Homo sapiens: one gene and its partners. The protein of the gene in region 1 purifies or fractionates together with the protein of each later gene. This does not show direct contact. Each region holds a gene or a part of one and is shown in the gene's direction. Other genes may lie near its edges.

The links.
Region 2: the proteins of AVPI1 (region 1) and IPO5 purify together in Homo sapiens (affinity purification with mass spectrometry; one large-scale study listed by BioGRID and IntAct). This does not show direct contact.
Region 3: the proteins of AVPI1 (region 1) and AKR1C1 purify together in Homo sapiens (co-immunoprecipitation; one large-scale study listed by IntAct). This does not show direct contact.

What each region holds. Positions count from the first base shown.
Region 1 is NC_000010.11:97,677,146-97,680,800, reverse strand, and holds the end of AVPI1 (arginine vasopressin-induced protein 1), read left to right. Parts: intron 1-885; 5' UTR 886-895; coding exon 896-1,182; intron 1,183-2,775; coding exon 2,776-2,932; 3' UTR 2,933-3,377; downstream 3,378-3,655. UniProt on the Homo sapiens protein: May be involved in MAP kinase activation, epithelial sodium channel (ENaC) down-regulation and cell cycling.
Region 2 is NC_000013.11:97,960,121-97,963,775, forward strand, and holds part of IPO5 (importin-5), read left to right. Parts: intron 1-226; exon of another isoform or gene 227-283; intron 284-3,039; exon of another isoform or gene 3,040-3,162; intron 3,163-3,655. UniProt on the Homo sapiens protein: Functions in nuclear protein import as nuclear transport receptor. Serves as receptor for nuclear localization signals (NLS) in cargo substrates.
Region 3 is NC_000010.11:4,969,859-4,973,513, forward strand, and holds part of AKR1C1 (aldo-keto reductase family 1 member C1), read left to right. Parts: exon of another isoform or gene 1-540; intron 541-2,061; exon of another isoform or gene 2,062-2,171; intron 2,172-2,342; coding exon 2,343-2,452; intron 2,453-2,540; exon of another isoform or gene 2,541-2,725; coding exon 2,726-2,891; intron 2,892-3,655. UniProt on the Homo sapiens protein: Cytosolic aldo-keto reductase that catalyzes the NADH and NADPH-dependent reduction of ketosteroids to hydroxysteroids.

The sequences.
Region 1 (3,655 bases):
ATCTGATTGGCTCATTTCATACTATGTTTGCTAAATTATACAGATTTGGTTCATCCCCAGGGTCTTAAAGATAGGAGGTGGGATGATGTCTCAATTTTATAGATTGAAAACACTGACCACTATTCTATATACTTTGTCTTCCTTCAATCTTCAAATTAATCCTACAAAGTAGGTAGTAGTACTAGGTGATAATTTGACACGGGAGGCAGCTGAGGCAGGGGGGATGCCCAGCCAGTAAGTGGTGGAGGGGGTAGAAGTGGGATTCCAACTCGGGTAGCCCAGCTCCACAACTCCTCTCTTACCTTTGTGCTACGGCACCTGGGCCTTAGCATCAGAGAGGCCTGGGTTCTCATCCTAGTTGCAGAACCATGGATGACTTAACCTTTCCTCAGATTCCTCATCTGTGAAATGAGGAGGATTAAAATACCTACCTTACAGGGCTGTTGTGCTTGTTACATCTCATTGATACTATGTGAAGCAAGCTGTTACAGGTGCCTGGTATAAGTACTCAACACAGTTGAGCTGCTACTGGGCATCCTGGCGTCTGCATGGAATCTACAGCTAGACAGACCTGGGTTCAACTGCTGGCTCTGCATGTGCACGTGGCTTTGTGACGCTGGCAAGTCATTTAACCCCTCTGAGTTGCACTTCTTCATCGGTAAAATGAGGATAAACAATAATTCTTACCTCATGGGTTGCTTTGAATCCTAAATGAGATAATATGGGGGTCTGACACATAAGTGCTTAAGTGATTTTAAGGCAGGAGACTTCCTCCAGTTTAGCTCTTGGAGAATGGAAACATCAGAAGCCCTAGGATTAGCCAGGACCCCCAGGTCTGGGAAGGACCAGCTGAGTTGATGATGTCTCCATGCTTTGCATCCTCAGAGCATCCACAATGGGTACCCCAGCCTCGGTGGTCAGTGAGCCACCCCCTTGGCAGGCCCCGATTGAGGCCCGGGGCCGCAAGCAGGCCTCGGCCAACATCTTCCAGGACGCCGAGCTGCTGCAGATCCAAGCCCTGTTTCAACGCAGCGGGGACCAGCTGGCCGAGGAACGGGCACAGATCATCTGGGAATGTGCAGGGGACCACCGTGTGGCTGAGGCCCTCAAGAGGCTGCGCAGGAAGAGGCCCCCAAGGCAGAAACCCCTGGGCCACTCGCTACACCACTGCAGCCGCCTCAGGTAGGTTCCTAGAACCGGATGGCTGAGGGAAGAGCACTAATGCCTGTTCCACCACTGCATGGCTGTGTGGCCTGGAGCTAGTTACTTGGCCTCACTGTAAAGTGCCTGCCCACCATTGGGGTGGTTATAAGGTCTACACAGTGTCACCACTTGGTTGGCACTTAAGAGATTGCTGTTGGTGGGTGCAGTGGCTCATCCCTGTAATCCCAGCACTTTGGGAGGCCGAGGCAGGCAGATCACTAGGTCAGGAGTTTGAGACCAGCCTGACCAACATGGTGAAACCCTGTCTCTACTAAAATTACAAAAATTAGCTGGGTGTGGTGGCACACACCTGTAATCCCAGCTACTCAGCAGGGTGAGGCAGGAGAGTCACTTGAATCTGGGAGGTGGAGGTTGCAGTGAGCTGAGATGACGCCACCGCACTCCAGCCAGCCTGGGTGACAGAGCGAGACTCTGTCTCAAAAAAAAAAAAAAAAAGATTGCTGTTACTTTTGGAGTCATATACAACCCTGTGAACTCCCATGGAAAGAGATGCCTGAGTCCTAGTAGCATCACCTCATTCTGCCGTTATTCTCAGCTTACCAGCCTGGGCAACATGGCGAGATCCTGTCTCTGAAAACACACACACACACACACACACACACACACACACACACACACACACACACACACACACACACACACACACACACACACACACACACACACACACACACACACACACACACACACACACACCCTCCCCCCGCCAAAAAAAAGAGAAATTAGCCAGGCATGGTGGCATGCACCTGCGGTCCCAGCTACTCCAGGGGCTGAGGTAGGAGGATCACTTGAGGCCAGGAGTTTGAGGCTGCAGTAAGCTATGATCCTGTCACTGCACTCCAGCCTGAGTGACCTGAGTGACAGAGTGAGATTCTCTTTTTTTTTTTTTTTTAAGCCTAATTAAAATCTTGGCTGGGGGATTACAGAGAATATAGCCTAGGAATGTACTGTCGAGGCATTATGGGTTAAAAATTGTTGAAAACTTTTACCTTGAGATCTCTCCCCAGTCTCCCTGGTGGGCCACTTCTTTGCCTAGGCCACTGCCAGCCCAGGAAGAGTGAACCCAAAGGGATGGAGCTGAACCACTTGGCCTCAACCAATCACTATGGGTGATGCTCTGGGCTTCATCTCTCTGCTGCCTTCTCTGGGGCCCACAATCAGAACATCAGACCTAAACAGGCCTTTGGAGGTCATCAGGTCCTGAGATGGCAAGTCAGTGTCATAGCTTGTATTTAACTCCAGTTAATTAGTAGTCACTGCTTATCAAACCAGTTTAATAGCATGACTTATGACATCTGCCATGAGTACAGGATGAGGATGAAGAAATGTTGAGTTTTGCACAACCTGATCTGGTCCAACCCTTTCTACTGCAGAGAAATCTGTAAACTTTGTCTAGTCAGACAGTTCTCAGAGGGGGAAAGACCAGAGCAGAGCCCCGCTCTCATTTTGCTCCAAATCATATGTTTTATGGTCCACCATGACGAAATCTCTTGAAGTCCCCATTCCATTCTTCCTATTGATGTTGGCTAATCATACACTTGTTCTCTGCAGAATCCTGGAGCCCCACTCTGCACTGGCCAACCCACAGAGTGCCACAGAGACAGCCTCCAGTGAGCAGTATCTGCACTCTAGGAAGAAAAGTGCCAGGATCCGCCGGAACTGGAGGAAGTCAGGCCCCACAAGCTACCTCCACCAGATCAGACACTGATCCAGGGAAAGAGCCAGGAATGGCAGTGTCTTCCCTCTTGCCAAAAGGCCTGGGGAGGTGAAGGAAGAGAGACTTTAGGCAAGCAGCCCAAAGGGGTAAATGAAAGCAAGAGGCTGCTGCCACTGACCTGCTCCATTCAGAACAAGACTGGATGCTTCTGTTGAGCTCTCCATTATGTGGGACCCATTCCTCACCAAAATGAGGAGAGACAGTGACTGTTCCTGCCACAGTCCTTCCCAGTCTAACACTATTCCTGGGCTGCATGATATTCCCCTGGGAGCAAAGTGACAGGCACTTAGATGCAGCATTTCACCACTCATGCTACTAATCATCTACCTGCTACTACTGTAAACCATGGTTCCAGCAGCCTGTTCCACACCCCCACACCATCAGGATAGCACAGGGAAACTGTAGTTTAAGTGGCAAATAAAAACATTTGCATCAAGAGCTGTGTGAGTCTGTCACAGAAGGGGAGGAAATGAAACAGAGTGGGAGGGGCAAGAGTGTCCCCAGGAAGGAAAAATCAGGGCTGGCCTCCTCTCTCCTTTTCACCTCCCTCTCCTTTTTCACCCCCATGCTGAGCCCCTGGACCACAGCCTCCTTTTCCAGAGTCTGTTGGATCGGGAGTAAAGAGGGGAGTCTCTGCAGCAGTCCTGATCCATAGGATCAGGAGAAGGGGGAAGACTGTCATGGTCAGCCCAGCACAGTAGGCTGAGGCCTTGG
Region 2 (3,655 bases), on another chromosome or scaffold:
TGACTAAAAATCCATGCTGCCAATAGCTCCAACTATGAGATGCAGATCGATGTCACAATTCAGACTCCATTATGTATGTCCTCACAATGCAGGAGGTGAAATGTGTATGTCATGTGTCCAAATTGTAAGATACTTGCTGTAAGTAGCAAAAAGATGGGAAGGAAAGTCTACAGACCAAATCATATCTGAATCTCCCCATTCTCCCTCTCCACAAATATTGGTTTAGGAATTCTCCGAAGTTTGAAGGTTATGAATGGTTATCACTCAAGGATTCAGAACTAAGGTAAAAATACTGTGAATGATAGGGGGAAAAAATCACTAATTGAGGTCTAAATCAATATCCTTCAGCTCTCTAAGGAAATGTATTTTTAATATAATAGCTTTATTGAGACATTCATACACCATAAAGTCCAAATTTTACTTTTTATTTTATTTATTTGGTTTTTTTTTTTTTTGAGATGGAGTTTCACCCTTGTCACCCAGGCTGGAGTGCAATGGCATGATCTCGGCTCACTGCAACCTCCACCTCCTGGGTTCAAGCAATTCTCCTGCCTCAGCCTCTTGAGTAGCTGGGATTACAGTCGCGCACCACTACGCCCAGCTAACTTTTGTACTTTCAGTAGAGACAGCGTTTCACCATGTTGGTCAAGCTGGTCTCGAACTCCTGACCTCAGGTGATCCACTCGCCTGAGCCTCCCAAAGTGCTGGGATTACAGGCATGAGCCACCTCACCCAGCCTAAAGTTCAACCTTCTAAAGTGTACAATGGAGTGTTTAGTATATTCAGTGGGCTGCACATTCATCACTATCACCCTTTCCTCACCCTAAAAGAAAACTCCATACCTGCTAGCACTCACTGATTCCCCTACCCACCCCATGCCCAGGCACATGGCAAGCACCAATCTACTGTCTATGGATGTGCTGATTCTGGACATTTCCCATAAGTGGGACCAAAAAAATGTGTGGTCTTTTTGTCTGATTTCCTTCAGGCAGTCTAATGAGTTTAAGGTTCACTCATGTTGTTACATGTATCATTACTTTATTCTTTTATTGCGAAGTAATATTTCCTTGTATAGTTAGAAGACATTTTGTTTATCCATTCACCAGTGGATGGACAGTTGAATTGTTTCCACTTTTTGGCTGTGGTGAATAATGTTGCCATGAACATTCATGTACAAGTTTTTGTGTCAACATATGTTGTCTTTTCTCTTGCACATATACCTAGGAGTGAAATTACTGAGTCAAATGGTAACTCAGGCTGGAGTGCAATGGCACGATCTCGGCTCAACGCAACCTCTGCCTCCCAGGTTCAAGTGATTCTCATGCCTCAGCCTCTCGAGTAACTGGAATTACAGGCATGCGTCACCACACCCAGCTTATTCAGACTGTTTTCCAAATTGGCTGTAACATTTTATGTTCCTATTAGCAAAGTATGAGCGTTTGAATTTCTCCACATTCTTGTCAACACTTGCTGTTGCCTTTTTTATTAAAGCCATTTTATTGGGTATGAAGTGGTAACTTACATTGTGGTTTTGATTTGCATTTCTCTAATGATGAATGATGTTGCACATCTTTTCATGTGCTTATTGGCCATTTGTATATTTTCTCTGGAGAAATGTCTATTCAAATGTTTTACCCATTTTTTTAATTGGGTTGTCTTTTTTTAATTGAGAGTAGGGCTTTTTAAATATTCTGGATATAAGTCCCTTATAAGACATATGATTTGTGGCCAGGCGCAGTGGCTCACACCTGTAATCCCAGCACTTTGGGAGACCAAAGTGAGTGGATCACTTGAGGTCAGGAGTTCAAGACCAGCCTGGCCAACACGGCAAAACCCCATCTCTACTAAAAATACAAAAATTAGCTGGGCGTGGGGGCGCACACCTGTAATCCCAGCTAATCTGGAGGCTGAGGCAGGAGAATCACTTGAACCTGGGAGGCAGAGCCTGCAGTGAGCTGAGATCATGCCAATGCATTCCAGCCTGGGTGACAGAGTGAGACTTTGTCTCAAAAAATATACATTATTTGCATATATTTTCTCCCATTCTATGAGTTGTCTTTTCTCTTTCTTGATGGTGTCCTTAAAAGCACAAAGGTTTTAATTTTGTGAAGTTCAATGTATCCATTTTTCTCTTCTGCCTTTTGTGATTTTGATGTCATAGCTAAAAAATGATTGCCTACCCCAAAGCGATGAAGATTTAGTCCTATATTTTCTTGTAAGAATTTTATAGTTTTAGCTCTTACATTTAGTCTATGATCCACTTTGAAGTTTTTATGACGTGAAGTATGGGTCCAGCTTCATTCTAACGCATGTGGATATCAAGTTGTACCGGCAACAATCTTTCCACAGTGAACAGTCATGGCTCCTATATTAGCCAGGGTCCTCAAGAGAAAATGAACCAATAAGAAATAGATGGATGGGCACAGTGGCTCACACCTGTAATCCCAGCACTTTGGGGGGCCCAGGCAGGCAGATCACTTGAGGTCAGGAGTTCGAGACCAGCCTGGCCAACATGGTGAAACCCCTGTCTCTATTAAAAATACAAAAAATTAGCTGGGTATGGTGAGGCACATCCGTAGTCCCAGCTGCTCAGGAGGCTGAGGCACAAGAATCACTTGAGCCTGGGAGGCAGAGGTTGCAGTGAGCCAAGATTGTGCCACTGCACTCCAGCCTGGGTGACAGAGTGAAACTGTCTCAAAAAAAAAAAAAAGGTAGATAGATAGATTTATTTTAAGGAATCTGCTACATAATTATGAGAGATGGAAAGTTCAAATCCTGCAGGGCAGGCTAGCAGGCTGGAAATTCAGGTTTGAGTTGATGTTGTAGTCTTGAGTTTGAAATCTGAAGGGCAAACCAGCAGGTGGAGATTCGGGCAAGGTTTCTGTGCTGTGGTCTTGTAGCAGAATTGTTTCTTCCCCCAGAAACCTCCATCTTTGCTATTAAGGCCTTCAACTGATTAGATGAAGCCCACCCACCTTGTGGAGGGTAATTTGCTTTAGTTAAAGTCAACTGATTATAAATGTTAAATTGTATCCACAGATACTTTCCCAGCAACATCTAGACTGCTGTTTGACCAAACAACGGGGCTCCAACAGCCTAGCCAAGTGAAACATAAAACTAACCATCACAGTATCCTTGTCAAAAATCAGTCTGACAACACATGTAAGGTTTATTTCTGGAGTCACTATTCAATTCCATTGATCTATATGTCTGTCCTTATGCCGGTAACACTTGTGTCTTAATTATTATAGCTTTTTTTTTTTTTTTTGAGACGGAGTCTAGCTCTGTCACCAGGCTAGAGTGCAGTGGTGGAATCTCAGCTCACTGCAATCTCCGCCTCCTGGGTTCAAGCAATTCCCTTGCCTCAGCCTCCCAAGTAGCTGGGACTACAGGCATGCACCCTCACGCCCGGCTAATTTTTTGTATTTTAGTACAGATGGGGTTTCACCATGTTGGCCAGGATGGTCTCGATCTTCTGACCTCATGATCTGCCCGCCTCAGCCTCCCAAAATGCTAGGATTATAGGTGTGAGCCACTGCACCCGGCCATTATTACAGCTTTATAGTAAGCCTTGAATTCAGCAACTGTTAATCCTTTGAATTTTGTTTTTTTCGACTGCTTTGGTTACTCAGAGTCTCTTGCAACTCTAGATGAA
Region 3 (3,655 bases), about 93 Mb from region 1:
AGTGGAAATACATATGTATAAAATTAGTGAATTTGGTATAATGATACGGTGCTGTGATAATTTAATAAAAGCATTGAGAAATTAATGTGGTTTTAATACTAGTAGTTCCCCAATTTTTTAATATGGCCATTTTCACACTTTCCAAAAATTTGATAAAAATAATACTGGAGACCCATGTTACCATTTATATTCAAAATTACTAACATTTTGCAATGTTATATGGAGTATATCTGCATAAATACATATAATGTTTCTAGAACCTCTTCAAGGTAAATTGTAAAGATGACAATTGACCCCTAGAGACCTCTCAAAGCATGTCACAGGAATGAAGATATTCTCCCAGTTCCAGTGTCATTACTGTATCTAAGAACATCATCTATAGTGCCCTCATGTCATTTGGTATCCAGTCCATATTTGAATTTTTCCTTGCTTAATCAAAATATCTTTTGTAGCTCTTCTTTTTTTAACCAGAATTCAATTGTTTTTATATTGTTGTATTTTGATATCAGTTAACTTGTTTTTCCCAGTTGTTGAAGGTTTCTGTAAATTAGAAGTTAGATGAGAGTGTTTTATTACATTGACTTAAACCTTTGGGGCAAGAAAATATTTTTATCATGCTGTGTTTTTCAAATTGCACCACACTAGACTGCATACAATCACAGAATGCCCCACTAGTGGTGAAGGTAGTTTTAAAAACTTGGTTAAGCTCCAACAATGATAGACTGGATTAAGAAAATGTGGCACATATACACCATGGAATACTATGCAGCCATAAAAAATGATGAGTTCATATCCTTTGTAGGGACATGGATGAAACTGGAAATCATCATTGTCAGTAAACTATCGCAAGAACAAAAAACCAAACACCGCATATTCTCACTCATAGGTGGGAATTGAACAATGAGATCACATGGATACAGGAAGGGGAATATCACACTCTGGGGACTGTTGTGGGGTGGGGGGAGGGGGGAGGGATAGCACTGGGAGATATACCTAATGCTAGATGACGAGTTAGTAGGTGCAGCGTACCAACATGGCACATGTATACATATGTAACTAACCTGCACAATGTGCACATGTACCCTCGAACTTAAAGTATAATAAAAAAAAAAAAACTTGGTTAAGCTAACAGTGGTCAGATCTGTTGTTTTTAACTCATGTTTTCTCTTTAACAATTACTAGTAATCTGCTGGGGGATAATTCTCAACAGAAGAAGTCATATTCCCATGACAAATTTTCACATATGATTGAGTATACATCAGTGATTTGAACTTTTTTCTACTGCATTTCTGTTTTCTTCTTTGTTATTTCTTATTTGTTATTTCCTTGGGGTTTTTACATAATCATTTACAATTTTAACCACTTGTTTAACTATTCTTACCTGACATTTAATTAAAAATGATTTCTCACCAAGTAAAAATAATAAACTACTATTCCTCTAAGTGAGGGTAAAGGTGAACTTCTTCCTTCAATTAGCAATGTACTGTGAACGTAATTACTGTAATGACCACCATCAGAGTAGACAAAGATTGTTGTTCTTTTTCTCATTGTCGCACTAATTACTACAGACTCACGGATTCTTGTGTTATGATTTTTAATTTATTTTACTCATTTTTTAATGCTCACATCTACTCAGCATATATATATTATATATATATATATATAAAATATATATGAAAGAAGAATGTGATCAAAGACTCATGAGGGCAAGTGTAAAAGACAAAAGCACTTGTTTCATAGGGAACCCACTGGTGACATTTGAGATATCAACATACAAATCCATCATACAAAAAGGAAAAGTAATGAAAGACTGTGAAAATTATCAGTATTTATGTGTGTATGTATATTTTCTAGTTCATCTATATAGATATATATCATAGATGGCATATATGATATATATATTATATGTCAGATCAATTAGAAAACATACATATACATGTATGCATTTTTGGTATTAATTAGGAAACTAGTTCTTTTGTCTTTCAGACCTGCCCTCATGAGTCTTTGACCAAATTCTTGATTTCTGGCACGATTTGATGCCCAAGGCTCAAAGAATCTTACCTCATCCCAGCTCTGAAATTGGCCGTGTCTCGTTCTAGTGGTCGGAGTTATTGAGAAACCAGGATAGGGTTCATGGAGTTGCTTGTGCTCAGAAATAGCATTTCTATTTTCTTAGGAGAGAGGGGCATAAAATTTATTTTTATGAAAAAGATCATTTTTGACAATAATATTCTCAGTTCAAATTTAATGCTCTACATTATTCAGCTTCTTTTACTTTGGTGATTTTAATATTAGTGTAACTTTTGGATTATCTGATGCTTTTCCATCTTGCTCGTCTGCAGGTGGAATGTCATCCTTACTTCAACCAGAGAAAACTGCTGGATTTCTGCAAGTCAAAAGACATTGTTCTGGTTGCCTATAGTGCTCTGGGATCCCACCGAGAAGAACCATGGTAATAAGAGATACAGGAAGTTTACCTAAAACACCGGTTTGATAAAAAAAATTTAATCAGATCATGCTGTTTCCTGGAGTTCACTCACAGCTGACTTGGGGTGAGGGAAGAATTTGCATTTCTGACGAGATCCCAGGTGATGTTGAGGCTGCTGTTCGGGGGCCTCGCTTGAGAAGCTCCGGTGCAGAGTGGACGCCTTAGTCTGTTTAGGGAGCCGCCTAACAAACTGTATCCCCAGCCTCAGGGCCTCAGCCTTTCTGCCTTTCCTTCCAGGGTGGACCCGAACTCCCCGGTGCTCTTGGAGGACCCAGTCCTTTGTGCCTTGGCAAAAAAGCACAAGCGAACCCCAGCCCTGATTGCCCTGCGCTACCAGCTACAGCGTGGGGTTGTGGTCCTGGCCAAGAGCTACAATGAGCAGCGCATCAGACAGAACGTGCAGGTGAGGAGCGGGGCTGTGGGCCTCAGGTCTCCTGCACAGTGTCCTTCACACGTGTGCTTCTTGTAAGGCTCTCAGGACAGCCTTGGGCCAGCTCCATTTCCCTGTATTTCCTATGCATGAACTCTTTGTGTACGTCATAAGGGTTTCTTCTACTCTAGCACAGGAGAGGCAACAGAGGTGGAGAGAAATAGGATGGGATCAAAACTACAGATTTGGGTTAGCGTTAAGTCAGTGATATCCATATCCCTCTGCTGGGGCCATGTCCTTTTCTTTATTTTTTATAATGAAGCATTGATTAGATGTTCTTTAGTCTCCAACTCATGGCGGATTTTTCTTCTTGTATGTTTATGTAGTATAAATTCCTTATATTTATTCTCTTAGAATTTTATCTTTGCGAAGTGCTTGTTTAACTCTGCCTTTTTTTTTTTGGCGAGGTGGTTGTGTGTCTTTATTTTTATGTGTAGGAGACCATATTTATACCAATACCTTAGGATATAAGACAAACCCACTTAATATAGAGGCTTAATGCAAAAGCATTTATTGAGCTCAAGGTTCCATGGTTAGAAAATTAGCCTGGGCTCAGCCTAAACTCAGTCCATTCCTTCTGTTCCTGGCTGGGCTCTCATGTGTGTTCAGGGCAGTGAGGCAGCTCTGCTTCAGGATGTCCCTGGGGCATCTGTGTGAGCGCCCCCCTCTCCCATGCAGTTCTTTATCCTCCAGCCATCCAGCCCAGGGTTCACCTCAGCACAGGGCATGACCCCAAG